2 separate regions of the Homo sapiens genome follow, and region 2 is linked to region 1. The links come from fine-mapping of genetic effects on gene expression. A gene starts in region 1. The other region holds a variant in brackets. All regions are shown on one strand. Distances are from middle to middle. Region 1 holds the start of USP49 (ubiquitin specific peptidase 49). Region 2 overlaps BYSL (bystin like).

What was found. PIP is the estimated chance that this variant, and not a neighbour inherited with it, causes the effect.
Region 2: its variant is the best candidate, but not a certain one, in a credible set for the expression of USP49 in thyroid (GTEx, PIP 0.59).

What each region holds. Positions count from the first base shown.
Region 1 is chr6:41,891,028-41,899,359 of GRCh38, reverse strand. It overlaps USP49 (ubiquitin specific peptidase 49), which reads left to right and starts at 3,985. Exons shown (of 8, transcript NM_001286554.2): 1 at 3,985-4,036; 2 at 7,485-7,566. RefSeq lists enhancers at 3,588-3,777, 4,712-5,226 and silencers at 3,827-4,119, 3,908-4,147.
Region 2 is chr6:41,922,680-41,931,011 of GRCh38, reverse strand. It overlaps BYSL (bystin like), which reads right to left. Exons shown (of 7, transcript NM_004053.4): 2 at 3,476-3,638; 3 at 742-880; 4 at 244-377. Among named protein-coding and RNA genes, the nearest start is that of BYSL, 5.3 kb to the right of the region's middle. RefSeq lists an enhancer at 5,252-5,752. The variant G/A (reference allele first, on the strand shown) is at 4,353.

The DNA.
Region 1 (8,332 bases):
ATTCCATTAATATTTATTGGTTTATTTTGCACTTTTTTTTTTTCTTTTTAGGGATGGGGGTCTCGCTATATTGCCCAGGCTAGTCTCGAACTCCTGGGCTCAAGTGATCCACCTGCCTCAGCCTTTCAAAGTGCCAGGATTACAGGCGTGAGCCACTGCACCTGGCCTTATTTTGCACTTTGAATGGATCTTTTACTAATGTGTGATTTTGTAGTGTCATGCATTGGTCATTTGGAAAACACTGCACATCTCCTAAATGTTGACACATTATACAGTATCAAAAAATCATATTTATTTATTTTTATTTTTATTTTATTTTATTTTATTTTTTGAGATGGAGTCTCGTTCTGTCGCCCAGGCTGGAGTGCAGTGGCACCATCTCGGCTCACTGCAAGCTCCGCCTCCCAGGTTCAAGCAATTCTCCTGCCTCAGCCTCCCGGGTAGCTGGGACTAAGGCACATGCCGCCATACCCAGCTAATTTTTTTTGTATTTTGAGTAGAGATGGGGTTTCACTGTGTTGCGCAGGCTGGTCTTGAACTCCTGAGCTCAGGCAATCCGCTCACCTCGGCCTCCCAAAGTGCCAGGATTACAGGCATGAGCCACCGTGCCCGGACTTATTTTAGTTTTGTGAGACAGAGTCTTGCTCTGTTGCCCAGGCTGGAGGGCAGTGCCATGATCTCGGCTCACTGCAACCTCTGCCTCCCTGGTTCAAGCAATTCTTGTGTCTCAGCCTCCTGAGTAGCTGGTATTACAGGCATGCGCCACCATGCCCAGCTAATTTTTTTATTTTTAGTAGAGATGGGGTTTCGCCATGTTGGCCAGACTGGTCTCGAACTCCTGGCCTGAAATGATTTGCCCACCTTGACCTCCCAAAGTGTTGGGATTACAGGCATGAGCCACCGTGCCTGGCCCACTACCAGTCTTATTAGAAAAAGTCATGGGAAGCTATCAAACTTACATTGGGAGATACAAGTCAGTTGTTAGAAATTCTGTTTGACTTAAATGCTTGAGTTTTATCAGGCCGGGTGCGGTGGCTCACGCCTGTAATCCTAGCACTTTGGGAAGCTGAGGCGGGCAGACTGCCTGAGCTCAGGAGTTCAAGACCAGCCTGGGCAACATGGCGAAACCCTGTCTCTACTAAAATACAAAAAATTAGCTGGGCGTTAGTGGCGTGTGCCTGTGGTGCCAGCTACTCAGGAGGCTGAGGCAGGAGAATTGCTTGAACCTGGGAGGCAGAGGTTGCAGTGAGCTGAGATCACGCCACTCCACTCCAGCCTGGGTAACAGAGTGAGACTCCGTCTCCAAAAATAAAAATAAAGGCTTGAGTTTTATCATAACCGACAATGCTATCAGGCTCTACTTTATTTTTAAGAACATGTCTGCCAAATATCCAGTGAACAACTAGTCTGTTAGCTGTTCTTTCAAATAAAAACGGTGTTCCATGAAGAAAGCTATTAATTCAGCTCCAAACTCAAATTGCAAGAGTGCTTTTCCTCAAGACAAATGTTGTACTTAAAAGTGCTTGATGCATACATACATGCATTTAATCACATAAACGTGTACTTAAATAAAACAATTTTTATTGTCTTCATCAAAGACCTCTTAAATGAAACAGGTGGTTTTTTTTTTTTTTTTTTTTGAGACAGTGTCGCACTCTGTTGCCTAGGCTGGAGTGCAGTGGTGCGATCTCGGCTCACTGAAACCTCTGCCTCCCAGGTTCAAGTGATTCTCCTGCCTCAGCTTCCCGAGTAGCTGGGATTACAGGTGCGTGCCACCACGCCCAGCTAATTTCTGTATTTTTAGTAGAGAGAGGGGTTTCACCATGTTGGCCAGGCTGGTCTCGAATTCCTGACCTCAAGTGATCCACCTGCCTTGGCCTCCCAAAGTGTTGGGATTACAGGTGTGAGCCACTGCACCCATCCGGCCTGAAACAGGTGTTTTTTTACTGTAGCAGTGAAGAATACCTTGACCTCTAGCACAACTTGGTGCAGTTGCCTTGATTTGTGCTAAGGCAGCAGTTTTACCCATTGCTACTTTTGTATCATTGTGCAAATATCATCACAGTGACAATGCAGATATGTCTCAGTATTATTAGGAAAATCGTTTTGATCTCAGGCACCCCACTATCCCCCCAGCCCAAAGGGTCTCAGAGATCCCTAGGCCTTTCCAGGCGACACTTTTTTTTTTTTTTTTTTTTTTTTGAGATGGAGTCTCACTCCGTTGCCAGGCTGGAGTGCTGTGGCACGATCTCAGCTCACTGCAACCTCCAACTCCCTGGTTCAAGCAATTCTCCTGCCTCAGCCTCCTGAGTAGCTGGGATTACAGGCACACGCCACCACGTCCGGATAATTTTTGTATTTTTAGTAGAGACGGAGTTTCACCATGTTGGCCAGGCTGGTCTTGATCTCCTGACCTCATGATCCACCTGCCTTGGCCTCCCAAAGTGCTGGGATTACAGGCGTGAGCCACCGTGCCCGGCCTCCAGGCCACATTTTTGAGAACACTGATCTAATACATGCTCACATCACTGAGAAACTTTTCCTCCTGTATTGCTATTCTGGGAGCATCCCTTCCATTGGAAGTTTTAAGTGGCTCCCAAATTCTTCACTCAGCAAAAGCACCTTGTTATGGAACTAACATTGAATAAGTAACAATCTTTCTTCTCCAAGAATTTTCTTGGGGATTGTTGAGTAAGGGAATAAGACATATAATTAGAGTTATAATGTTAAGAATTCCTTAAAAAGAATTATGTTAACTGTGATGGACGACAAAGGGAGAGCTAAATTCTGAATCTAACTCTGAGGCCTTGAACCTCATGATAAATCCCGACCAAACCAAATTGAAACACTCCACTTCCTCTCCTTCTATCAAACCTCTTTTAAAAGTGCAAGTTGTTAATAAATTGCCTACACAGCGCTTGGTCCAGGCATTGTAGTTTCCCCCTTCCTATTGTGTGTGGTGTTCTTTTTTTTTTTTTTGTGCTTACCTAGTTCTCCTGTTTACAGGTGTGTAACTTGAGCCACTACTATAGCTAATGTCTGTTTCTTTTACTTGTCCTTATATTTAAATGTAAGTCTTTATCTGCCTTAGCTATGTGTTGGGTGTTGAAATTGTTGATCTTATTTTGGGAGACTCCCATCCCCTCCCCCCACTACCACCCCGCAAGTAGTTTCAAGACAGTGCACCTAGGAGACTGCTTAACCTAAGCCTTTTGTAGCTTAGGTGCTGTTCTGTTTCCCAATGGACCACTACCAAGTCAGTCTGGTTTATTTCCCAAGCCTTACAATCTGCTGAACTTCTTCAGTTCCGGCAGCGATCCTCTAACTTGTGGGGGATTTCCATAAAACAGCTGAATCTCTCTTGGGTCATCTGTGGCAAAAGCCAGACACGTGCTCACCCGCCTGGGAGCCAATAGTAACTTTTGCAAACGCTGCCTCCGGAAACCCCACGGTTTGAGGGCTGCTGCTTTAGGAACAACACAGAAATAACGTCTTTTAACAGAATAAAACAAAACATACGGACGGGATAGTGAGAAAGCCTTTGTCCTTCGCAGTGGGGAGAGGTGTTAAAGGTGAACCGAAAAGAGTATGGGAAACTCATGTAAAATACCTTTACAGTTCCCCGGGAAGAAGGGGGCGGAGATGGGCTCGGGAGCGTCTCTGGCCCTTTAAGGAGGAGGGACAGACATAAGAGTCTGTACCTTTAAGAGTCTCTTTGTCTGGAAACCTTCTTATTTACCCTCCTGTGCTTCAACCAAACTTCGACCAGCTATTCACAACGTCCCCCTACGCCGCCGCCCCTTACGCCAGGCTCAAAGCGGCCGCGCGTTTGTGGCTGACCCTAAACTTTGCGCCTGCGGCGCGAACCCTCGGAACGGGTGCCGGTGCCGGGGTCGCGGCCCAGCGCTGCGCCGTTGGCGCAATGCAGGGCCTGAGGGGCGGGGCTCCAGCGGGCGGGCCAATAGACGGGCAGGGGGCGGGGCCGTGTTCGGTTGTCTCGCGCCCTGGTGACAGCTCGCGCGTGCTGATGATGGCGGTAAATAGAGGGGGCCGGGGGAGGGGACGGAGGAGGTGGGGAGGCAGCAAAGTGGGTAGCTCCAGGGGGTAGGGGGAACGGGGGCCGGGGAGGCCGCGACGGCCAGGGAGCCCATTCTAAGACTCGGAGGCGGGGATAGGAGTCTCCGGCTCACTAGCCCTCCCCTTTAAAGAAGCAAAATCCTCACACACCGGGTGAGGGGCGACAAAGGCAGCGCGCGCCTCGCGGGCGGGAGGAGCGGCGGCAGGGGGCGGGACCGCGGCGCCGGCGGGCTGGGGGCGCCCGGGGCGGGGGCGGCGGGAGGCGAGAGCCGGGAGTCGGGGCGCGCGGGCGCCTTATTTTGGCGGGGTGGGCGACGGCTGGGTTGGGGCAAAAGCGTTGAAGGGAGAGGGAAAGGAAGGCTTGGAGGCGATGAGGGGAACCGGGTTGAGAATGAGATGAGGAGGATTAAGGGGAGAAAGGGTTAGAAGCCAGGGAGAGGAGGAGTGAGAAAAAGCCAGCCAAGGAGATAGGAAGGAGGCAAAAGCCAGGGTGGGCGTTAAGGAAGCCGGGCAGGGAATGAGGTTAGGGCTGGGGAAAGGGATCCTGGGGTTAGGTGTAAGAGCAGGGGTTTGAAGGGGAAATCTTCGTAGCGGGTGGTGTTGGGGTGAGGGGTACCGGGGTAAGTGTTGGAAGTGGAAGACAAGGAGGGGCAGAGCTGGGGTAATAGTTGGGAGTAGGAAAGAGAGAGTGATTAAGAGCCAGACGTGACGAGGGTGTGAACTAGTGCGGAGCGAGATGAGCTGAAGGACTGGGACCAACGGTGTGGTGGGAACTGCTGGCGAGGTTCTGAGAAAGGAATGGGTTAGTGGGTGGGCGATGGATGTAAATTCTGTAAAGTGAGGGAGGGCAAATGAGACCTGGACTGGAACCAGGTGGAGTCAGGAATAAGAGTGTGGTGGAAGGGCGAAAGGAAACAGATAAGAGATGGGTGTCTGTAGGACGATTCTGGGACCAGAAGAGCTGAAAGGAGACTAGAGTTAGGGTGTAAGAAGTGATGGCCATCTGGGACAAGGATAACTGGGTAATTACGTTAATTGAAGAGGTTCAGCAAGATCCAAGGTGAAAACAGTGAGGTAAAGAGACAGGGCTAAAAGCAAATGGTGAGAGGAGCAGGAAGAGATGGGCCCCAGAATTTAAAGGATGAGATGGGGAGTAAGGGAAGAGAGGGGGCTAAGAGAAGCTGGGGGAGTCCTGATGGATGTAGAACTGGGGTAGACTGCAGGGGGGTGGGAATCGAATGTGCGTGTTATGGGGAGTTGCTCCAGAAGGTCTGCAAGGGTCAGGGCAGAAATGCTGTAGTGAAAGATCAAGTGTAAGAGAGCCTTTGGTGCAGAAGACGAGGAACCATGGTGAGTGAAAGGGGACCTAGAGACAGGGGTAAAGACTAAAAAGTAAGGGCAGAGGTGGGGGGTGCAGGAAAGGAATTCTTTGTTGAGGAGAGAACTGTGTGTTGAAACTGTGAATCCTTTTGTCCCTAAAAGTAGGAAATTCCAGAAACCTCTTTCTCTCAAGAAATCTTGAATCTGCTTCCACCCTTCATTGCTTTTGATTTGACTTTCCTGTCCACTTTGAAGAAATGAGACTCATTTTGATTTGATTTTTTTCTTGTATGGATGATAAAGTATAAACTCTGGGTGTTGAAAACCTCTGCATTTCACTAGTGTTGTGATAATTCGGGGAAAGGGTGTGCTTATTTAGGGTGTACTCGTGTGATGTGATAGTTTTAGTGTTGTAGGAGTGTTGCACCTGACAAGTGCTGGGCTGTGTTTTATGGACAGCATTTTCATTTTCAATGGAGAACGCACTGTTGTTGGGATAGAGAAAGATGAGAATCTGTTTCTTTTGATTAATCAACCAGATTTCTGCTTATTGTTTTCAGTTGCTGGAGAATGTTAAGAAATCATTTCAGAGAAAGGCAGATAACCAACCAAGGAAGTTTACTGGGGGAGAGATTAAATCAGAGCTGAGGGCTTTGAGTTCCTGAGCTGCCTTTAGCTTTGTGCGGGACGTTTCATGCTGTAGTTGGTAACTCACCCATTTAACAAAATGGCATAAAGAAAGGGAGAATTGTAGAGTAGTGGAGGATTTTAGAGTAGCAGACTTATTTTTTAGGGCAAATAAATTTATGAGTAATTTTGATGGAAAAACATCTCTGTAAGATAATACTGCAGCAAGCTTGGTCTTTGGACAGCTCCACTGCCTTTCGTGTTTTATGGTTATGAATAAAGAAGGCCAGATTAATACTAATTTTCTAGAAGCTTTTGATTTTTAAGACACCTTTAGAAATGAAAAGGAAGATAAGAAATTTGGGGCAAAATTTGGTTATTCTTACTTAGAATTTTGTTTTAATGATTTTTTTCAGAAGCTTTTACATTTAGCTAAGAATATGAATGAATATTTGTTTTGCATTTGATGGTGCCAAAGGATAGCATATGATTTACTTAGGGAAAAATTCAAACAATTGTTGAGAATCTTCTTTGGGGTTATTTCATTGTGTACACTCAGATGCACAAAGATACTTTTTTTTTCAAAGTTGGGTAAATTTTGGATTGACACTTTTGCTGGTGTTTGTATAAATAACAAAGATTAGGTTTATGACTTTTGTAGTAGTTAACAAAGATTAGATTTTGATTTGTGGATTTGAGCAACAATGGTTAATGTATAATTTAGAAAACTCTTTCTGCATTCAGCTACTGTGTTAGTGGCATAGTATTTAGTTTATGGTTTGTTTCCTGGATTGTATTAAGCAAGTGTTCAAGGTTACTAGATGTATTTAGCAATTTAACAGAGGATCTTGGTAAAAATTACTATTTTTGCCACTACATTTTAAAAGGATTAGTTTGATAATGTTGACTTTCAAGATGAAGAATAACTTTGATATGAGGCACTTGTTTCAGTGAGATGTGTGTGCATATTCTTTTTATAGATGTGTTTGGGCTGGCGTTAGTAGTAGGACGTACTCTGTATGGTATTGCCATGTTTATAATGTAATTGTAATTGTTTAATGCTCAATATCTTTATATAAGTGATTATAGACTTATTTGATATTGGTAAAGAAGGAAATATAAACTGTAAGATCAGCCAAGGGAAAGAGTGAGTCCTGCCTTTTGTTTCTGTATGCAACGGCCTTAGTGTGCTAAACCACTGAGTCTCATTGTCAATGGTTATTTCTCAGTCGCTATTTCTAAAACTGAAAATGGATTTTTAAAAATTGAGATAATACTATTTATCAATAAGGACTCCAATGATAAATTTAAGCTTTATTTTCATTTGTTCATCAAGTACAGTTCTACCCAATTTAACTTTATTTTGGTTATAATCTTATTTGCTAAGCAAAAGCTTTTAAGTTTATATTTTTAGATTTATTAGGCTGTACATAATTAAATGTTTTCCTGGTTAACCGTAGATTCTTTGGATGGGAAGAGACCTTGAAAGGACCTCTAGTTTATCCTGCAACTCCAGTCAATATCCCACTTAAATCATTCCAGGTAGATAAAAATTTATCCTATTTTTTAAAACAAATCTTCAGCAGTAATGTGGTAACCTCTGTAGATAATCTTTGCAAGCATTTAATAATTTCTCTATCAGGAGAGTCTGCCTTCTCTCCAACCAGCACATGTTTAATGCTATATATGTGTTTGTTTCCTCTTGCCCCATTCTCAATTTTTGAGTAAAAAATACCTGTGTACTTTTGTATTTATAAGACCTTAGTTCTTCATAAACTTAATAATAGTAGCCAACACACATATAATGCTTTTGTGCCAGATACTTCTGTAAGCACTGCAAATTGTAACTTGTTTACTCCTCAATGGCAATCCTGTGAGGTAGGTACTATTACTATTCTCATTTTACAGGTGATGAAATAGAGGGTCCTTGAGATTAAATGATTTGCCCAAGGTTATACTCAGACATTCCTACAACTATTTATTTGGTAATTATCTTATATTACAAATAATACTATGTTTTGTAACCCAGTGATACATTTAATCTTTATTTTAGTTCAAAAGCTAGAATTCTACCAAGTGGTGGGATGGGATTCCAGCCTTTGCATTTTGCCAGCAGAGTCTGTGCTCTGGTTTTGCCTCTGGCTTGCCTGTTGTGAAGTTCTCCCTCACCAAGTTCTTCTTCAGATTCAACACTTAACAAGTCTTGTTTGCCAATCTTTAAAAATTATCCCTGTAGTCCTGTTACTAACCTTTTATCCAGTTCCTTTCTAGATGAGGAACCTGGGGTAAACACCGTAACGATTATGTA
Region 2 (8,332 bases), 32 kb before region 1:
TCCCAGTAGCTATAAAAGCCTCTCCCCTAGAAATTCATCACGGAGGGTTCCTAACTGGCTAACTGGGTCTTGGCCCCAAAAAATGACACAGGAAAAGCTAGAAAAATGATGCTATAAAGTAGCACAGAGAGGGCCCTGGGGCAAAGCTCAAATGCCCTGGGGCCAGAGGCAAGGAAAGCCTGTCCGTCCCAAACTCAGCCTGCACCTATAAACCCAAGGCCCCCGAACCCCCAGCTACTCTACCTGGTGGCCTGGTACATGGCAGCTGCAGTCCAGGCCTCCGGCTCTGTGACGTAGAGGATTTGCTCCCAGTTGGAGAGTGCAGGGATGATCTTAAATGCCTTGGGCAGTTTTCCACTGCGGTACTTAGATAATACCTAGGGATGAGGGAGGTAAAACAATCATCGTCATCCACATATGGCAAGCTTGCTGTGGGCTAGGAACTTGTCTGGGTGCTTTTAATATATTAACTCATTGCATCCCCACAATAACCTATAAGGAGGTGCCATTATTATGCTCATTTTACAGATGACCAGTGAGAGTTCCAGTAACCGACCCAAGGATGCCAAGTCATTTACAGGCAGAGCAGGAATCTGAACCCACACACTCTGCCTCTTAGGTCTGTTTTCTACTCCCATGACTTCTTTAGTATGTGATGCAGGCAAAAGGCAAAAAAGCCTGTGGCAGGAGCCCACAGCCCCCAAAGGGGTCTTCCACCATGGCTCCCCTCTCAGCTCTTACCTCCCGGACCCCCCTGTACACTTCTAGGACCCGGGGGTCCAGCTGGGGCATAGGGAAGCCCGACACCTCTGACATGACTGTCTCAACCTCTGTCTGCTTCTCAGTCAGCTTCTCCATGATGATGTCAGCCAGGGTGCGCCTAAGAGGGGAAGTGCCAAGAGGAGGGGAGAGAGGGGGCAAGGAGCACTGTGGTCACTGTCCAGGAAGCTCCAGACTCCCCACAGTCCCCTGTGAGCACCGCCATACTGCGATCCTGCTGGGATATGCAGCTTAGAGTTCTCTCTCTGTGCCCATTCATCCACCACAGACAGAATCACTGCAGGGTGCAAAGGAACTGAAAGTCATTCCATTTAGGACAAAGCTAGCAGTTGTACGGAGGTTATTATGAACCTCAACTCTGAAGTCAGTCTGCCCAGGTTCAAATCCTGGCTCACCCACTCCCTGGTATGATCTTGGGCATGTTACTTTACCTCTCTATGCCTCTGTTTCCTCATTTGTAAAATAGGGATAATAACGGTACCCACCTTAAAAGATTAATGGAAGGATTAAATAAGTTAATGTCTGTTCATTACTTGGAATGGTCAGTACACAGTAAGCGTTATCTATGGAAATATTTCTAAGACTGATTATATTCTTTTCAGCCTCCTTAAACAGTATTGTTGGGTGTATCAAACATAATCTTATCTTAATGATTCAGAATTACCATCGCCTTGAGCTGTCATATAATACTAGCATCTTCAGAGGCTGCTGAAGTGTATTTATTTATTTTTTTTGAGAGAGAGTCTACCTCTGTTGCCCAGGTTGGCATGCAGTGGCACCATCATGGCTCACTGCAGCCTCTATCTCTCTGGCTCAAGCGATCTTCCCGCCTCAGTCTCTCGAGTAGCTGGGACCACAGGAACATAGTACAAGGCCCAGCTAGTTTTTTATTCTTCTGTAGAGATGGGGTCTCCCCATGTTGCCCAGGCTGGTCTCACACTCCTGGGCTCCTGCCTTGGCGTCCCAAAGTGCTAAGATTACAGGTCTGGGCCACCATGCCCAGACTGAAATGTATTTAAAGCTGCTTCTCAGTTGGGCGCAGTGGCTCACGCTTGTAATCCCAGTACTTTGGGAGGCTGAGGGAGGTGGATCACGTGAGGTCAGGAGTTTGAGACCAGCCTGGCCAACATGGTGAAACCCTGTCTCTACTAATAAAACAAAAATTAGCCAGGCGTGGTGGTACGTGCCTGTAATCCCAGCTACTCGAGAGGCTGAGGTTGCAGTGAGCTGAGATCATGCCACTGCCCTCCAGCGTGGGTGACAGAGTGAGATCCTGTCACAAAACAAAACAAAAAACAAACTGCTCCTCTTTTCTGAGGTCCTACTCAATGCCAGGCACTGAGTTTGGGACTTTTCAGTCCTAGAGTCAGCGCAACACTTATAGGACACGGAAACTTATGCAGACATGGGAACTGGGCCTCAGGTTAATAACTCACCCAAGGCCTCACAGCTGTCAGGTGGGGGTAAGAGTCAAACTCAGGTTTTTGGAAGTCTTGAGTTAAGGTGCTTTATAGTACCTTATAATGTGCCCCCAAACTAAATGGCCTCTGATTGTTGAATTCATGTGGATCTAGGCTTGCTTTCTGAAGATGCCAGCTATCATTTCTTACGACTGCCAGGAGTTCTGATTACTTCAAGGAGCTTGTCTACTCTATTTACTACAAGCTGGAAAAGCATTCTGCTAAATTGGTCAGCATTATCAGTGAAGTAGGAGTTATGAGGTGCTGAGTGAGAACCTGAGAGGCTCTCTGGGGGGACAAGCCCAAGTACATACTTTATGACATATATTTCAACTGTTAGGCATCAATCTGGGAGAGGGGCTCATTTTCATTTCTTCATTCTGCATTTTCAAATAAGCTGCCACAGAATTTATCAGCCTCCCTGTCCTTTTATAGTATGATTAGCAATGAGATGCATTAGCCCAAAACAGCCTAAAGTATCAGGGACACCATTATGTTAATATCACAGGGTCAGAATGAACTGGTTGAGGACCCTTATCCTAGACTCCACTCCCAAGGGCCAAAATTTATGGGCTCAGGAGTTTGACCACAGGCAGTCTAAATGCCTGCATGTTTTGGAGCTAGCATTTATTATAGATGGGAATAAATTAGTGGTCCTGACTAGGGGCAGTCTTGCCTCCCAGAGGACATTTGGCAATGTCTGATGTCATTTTTGGTTTTCACAACTGGGGGAAGGTTGCTACTGGAGTCTAGAAGTAGAGATCAGAGATATCTACTAAACCTCCTACACTGCACAGGACAGCCTCCACACACACACAAAATTACCCAGCCCAAAATGTCAATAATGCTGAGGTTGAAAAACCTTGGCTTAAATGAAGCTTAGGATATGAAGACTTGTCCAAGGAAGTTGAGCTTACCGCTAAAAAAACTAAGAATACCAAAACCAAATGCAATAGGATGGCTCTCCCCAGAGGTGTAAAAGGGGCCTGGAACTGTTTCCCTGGCAACTGGGCAGTTGTACAACAAATGGACATAAGGACACAATGTTTTTTGAGGCTGGGTCATTCCTACTCACAGTGGTCCTTTGAGGATGGGCCAGTTTTGTCAAGGTGGTCCCCTACAGCTAGCAACTCCAGGGCCCTTTCCAAAGGTAGGGAATCATAAGTCTGCCAGGGAACTTGTTTTCCTGTGGGAACTTTCTACAAGGACTCATTATCCCAAATCCCCAGGCCTACCTGGCAGGAGGGTTCTTGTTCATGAACATCTCTATGGCACGCTCATCCTCAGGGTCCACAACCACCTCTGCATGATGGCCCGCTGCTGTCATTGTGGCAGCCTTCTCCAGGGTGGGCCACTCCTCGTCCTCGTCATCTGATCCATCCTGAGGCATTCTTGGACCTAGAAGAGGGGAGACTAAATGGATGAGCACAGCAAAAGGTAGCTGAGGGATTTCGTCAGTTTAACTTTAGCCATTATGTAGTACAGGCCTCACATGTGGTTGTGATAGACGCAGGTATGTGCAGTGAAACAAATGCATTAGCTCCCTGTCCCCAGGGGCTTGCAATCATGCTTGAGAAACAAAATGTATATACAGGAAACAATAAGAAAAGCAATGGCCATAAATAATAGTTAACATACCATACTCAGTTATGTAGAAGGAACTTTTTTTTTTTTTTTTGAAATGGAGTCTTGCTCTGTCACCCACACTGGAGTGCAGTGGCTGGATCTCAGCTCACTGCAAGCTCCGCCTCCCGGGTTCATGCCATTCTCCTGCCTCAGCCTCCCAAGCAGCTGGGACTACAGGCATAAGCCACCAGCCCGGCTAATTTTTTGTATTTTTAGTAGAGTTGGGGTTTCACCATGTTGACCAGAATGGTCTCGATCTCTTGACCTCGTGATCCGCCCGCCTTGGCCTCCCAAAATGCTGGGATTACAGGGCGTGAGCCACTGTTCCCGGCCTGTAGAAGGAACTTCTAAACACTATACCCATGTTAACTGTTTAATCCTTATAAACCCAAGAAGTGGCCGGGCACGGTGGCTCACGCCTGTAATCCCAGCACTTTGGGAGGCCGAGGCGGGCAGATCACGAGGTCAAGAGATCGAAACCACCCT[G/A]GTCAACATGGTGAAACCCCATCTCTACTAAAAATACAAAAATTAGCTGGGCGTGGTGGTGGGCGCCTGTAGTCCCAGCTATTTGGAAGGCTGAGGCAGGAGAATCACTTGAACCCAGGAGGTGGAGGTTGCAGTGAGCCAAGGTCACGCCACTGCACTCCAGCCTGGTGACAAAGCGAGACTCCGTCTCAAAAAATATATATAAAATTAAAAAAAATAAAATAAACCTTCTTATGGAACAATGGCAAATAAATAAATAAATAAGAATAAACCCAAGAAGTGGATACTATTACTATACCCAGTTTCAAATGAGGACATTGAAGCACTGAGAAGTTGGGTAATTTGCCCAAGACAGGTAGTCTGGGTCTAGACTGCATTCTTCACCACTATTCTACACATATTCGGGTTTGATTATATGCCACAATGAGTAGTAGAGACAACATATGCACTTAAAGGATGAGTGGTGAGGACAGTTAGGAGCTGGATGGGCAGTTTGGGAGCAGAAGGAGTGTGTTCCAGACGCAGAGAAAATAAGGCTTGGATATAAGAGTCTCCTAGGCAATAGCAAGAAATAATGCTAGGTACGTGGGAAAGGTGAAGCCAGACTGGAGGGCCTTTAAATTCAGGCAGTAGAGTTCAGATTTCAATCCACCAGTCCATTTAAATACATGAAGTTGGCTGGGCGTGGTGGCTCACGCCTGTAATCCCACCATTTTGGGAGACCAAGGCGGGTGGATCATGAGATTGGGAGTTCGAGACCAGCCTGACTAACAGGGAGAAGCCCCGTCTCTACTAAAAATACAAAATTAGCCGGGCTTGGTGGCGCATGCCTATAATCCCAGCTACTTGGGAAGGCTGAGGCATGAGAATCGCTTGAACCCGGGAGGTGGAGGTTGAGGTGAGGTGAGCCGAGATCGCGCCACTGCACTCCAGCCTGGGCAACAACAGCAAAACTCTGTCTCAAAAAAATAAATAAATAAATAAATAAAAATAAATAGGCCGGGCGCGGTGGCTCACGCCTGTAATCCCAGCACTTAGAGAGGCCAAGGCGGGCGGATCACGAGGTCAGGAGACCGAGACCATCCTGGCTAACACGGTGAAACCCCGTCTCTACTAAAAATACAAAAAATTAGCCGGGTGTGGTGGCGGGCGCCTGTAGTCCCAGCTACTCGGGAGGCTGAGGCAGGAGAATGGTGTGAACCCGGGAGGCGGAGCTTGCAGTGAGCCAAGATCGTGCCACTGCACTCCAGCCTGGGCGACAGAGCGAGACTCCGTCTTAAAAAAAAAAAAAAAAATGAAGTTAGTCCATTTAAATAACTTCTGTTTTTGGAAGGCTACATGTCTGGGCATCTGGAAAGGGGTCTAATAATCCAAGTGGGGAGCTATAATGCTACGTATCAATAGGTCATTAACAACAAAGGCAGTGTGTGATAAACACTAAATAAGGGGGAACAGACATTTTGTCTCCACGTTCCAACGGTCCCCCAAATTTGTACTTTGTAGGTGGTTCTCCTTAGTGCCAGACCCTAACTCCAGGTGTCTCCTGTAAGCTGCTCTTGGATGACTCACAGGCACCTCAAATCTCACCCGTTATCAACTAAACTAATTTTCTTTCCCTCCTAGGTCTACACTGCTAACCATCCACAGCTCAGTAAACGGCACCATCGTCCACCCAATGCTAAGCCTGGGAGGTACTCTTGCCTCATCCCCTGCCCTCACCCTCAACACCCAATCAATTACTAAATCATATTCAATTTTACCTCATAGACTGTCTCTCACATGCTTCACAGCCCCATCTAAGCCTAGATCAGCATCATCTCTTGCCTGGATTTATTCAACAGTCGCCCACTGGTCTCTATGTTTCTGACCTTGCTTCCCTCCAACTCATTTTCCACTCTGCAGACGGTCACCTTCCAGAAACACATATTTGATTTGATCAGCCCTGTCCTTAAAATTCTCCAGTAGCTTCCCATTCTTCCCACTGCTGTTAGGATGGTTTTAAAATCTTTTGTAGGCTTGGCTCCCACCTACCTGACCATCATTCATTACCGATTAACCCAGTCATTCAGCAAACACCAAGCACCTACTATATGTGAGGCACTGTTCGGGGTGCTGGCAATATATCCACGAACAACCGAAACCAAAAGACTTTGTTCTATACAGCTTACATTCTAATTGGAGGAGATAGTCTACGACCATACCACCCTGAACGCACCCAATCCTGTCTAAATGGAAGAGACAGACATAAATAAACATATAAATATATTGGGTTAAAAGATAAGTACTATGGGCTGGGTGCAGTGGCTCATGCCTGTAATCCCAGCACTTCGGGAGGCCGAGGCGGGTGGATCACCTGAGGTCAGGAGTTTGAGACCAGGCTGGCCAACATAGCGAAATCCCCAACTCTACTAAAAATACAAAAAAAAAAAAAATTAGCTGGGTGTGGTGGCGGGCGCCTGTAATCCCAGCTACTTGGGAGGCTGAGGCAGGAGAATCGCTTGAACCCGGGAGGTGGAGGTTGCAGTGAGCCGAGATCGTGGTATTGCACTCAGCCTGGGTGACGGAGCGAGACTCTGTCTCAAAAAAAAAAAAAAGATAAGTACTATGAAAAAAAGATAGGGCAGAAATGCTGGGAGTATGGAGATGGAGTAGAGTGCTGCAATCTTAAATGGAGTGGATAGGCCTCTCTGAGAAAGTAACCCTACAAGTGTATGAGAACAAACTATCCCAGAGAGAAGGAACAACCAGGCCAAACCCCCTAATTTCCCACGTTTAAGGCACAATGAAGCCTAAATAGGTGGAGTGGAATGGGCAAAGAGGAAAGCAGTAGAAGAGGTCAGACTGGCAAAGGAGGCAGATCATATAGTGCATTGTAGACCATTGTAATCCCCCACCTGTGAGTACTTTGTAGAGAGTATGAGACACGGCAGGGTGCAGTAGCTCACACCTGTAATCCCAGCACTTTGGGAGGCCAAGGCAGGGAGGGTCGTTTGAGCCCAGGAGTTTGAGACCAAACTGGGCACCACTGTGAGACCTCATCTCTACAAATAATTAAATAATTAGCGGCCAGGTGCGGTGGCTCACGCCTGTAATCCCAGCATTTTGGGAGGCAGAGGTGGACGATGACCTGAAGTCAGGAGTTCAAGACCAGTCTGGCCAACATGGTGAAACCCCATCTCTACTGAAAATACAAAAATTAACTGGATGTGATGGCTCACGCCTGTAATCTCAGCTACTCAGAAGGCTGAGGCAGAAGAATTGCTTGGACCTAGGTGGCAGAGGTTGCAGTGAGCCAAGATTGCGCCACTGCACTACAGCCTGGGCGACAGGCTCAAAAAAAAAAAAAAAGAATTAGTTGGACATGGTGGCACACACCTGTGGTCCCAGCTACGTGGGAGGCTGAGGTGGAAAGACGACTGGAGCCCAGGAGATTGAGGCTGCAGTTAGCTATGATTGTGCCACCGCACTCTATCCTGGGTGACAGAGAGAGAGAGAGACTCTGTCTCAAAAAAAAAAGAAAAAAAGAAAAAACGGAGAATATGAGATACTAACGAGGAGGCTACTGTGATAATCCAGGTGAGAGACTGTGGTGGCTACGACAGGATGGTGTTCCAAAGCGGTGAAAAGTGGTCTCATTTTGGATACACTTTGAAGGCAAAGTCATCAGAATTTCCTTACAGATCAGATGTGGGGAGGGAGAGACAGAGAGAGGAGATGGTGGGGGCAGGGAGAGAGAGGAGTCTAAAGTTTATCTCGAGCAAATGAAAGAATATGCTACTAACTGAGACAGGGAAGGCAATGGTGAGAGAAGCAGGTTTGGAGGGAAGGTCAGGATTTCTGTTTTGTACATGTTAAATTTGAGCTGTCTGTTAGATTTCAAATTGGAGATGCCAAATAGGCAGTTGAATATAAGAATCTGGATTTCATGGAAGAGATCAGGGCTAGACTATAAAGTTAGGAGTAGTCACTCAAGGATGGTA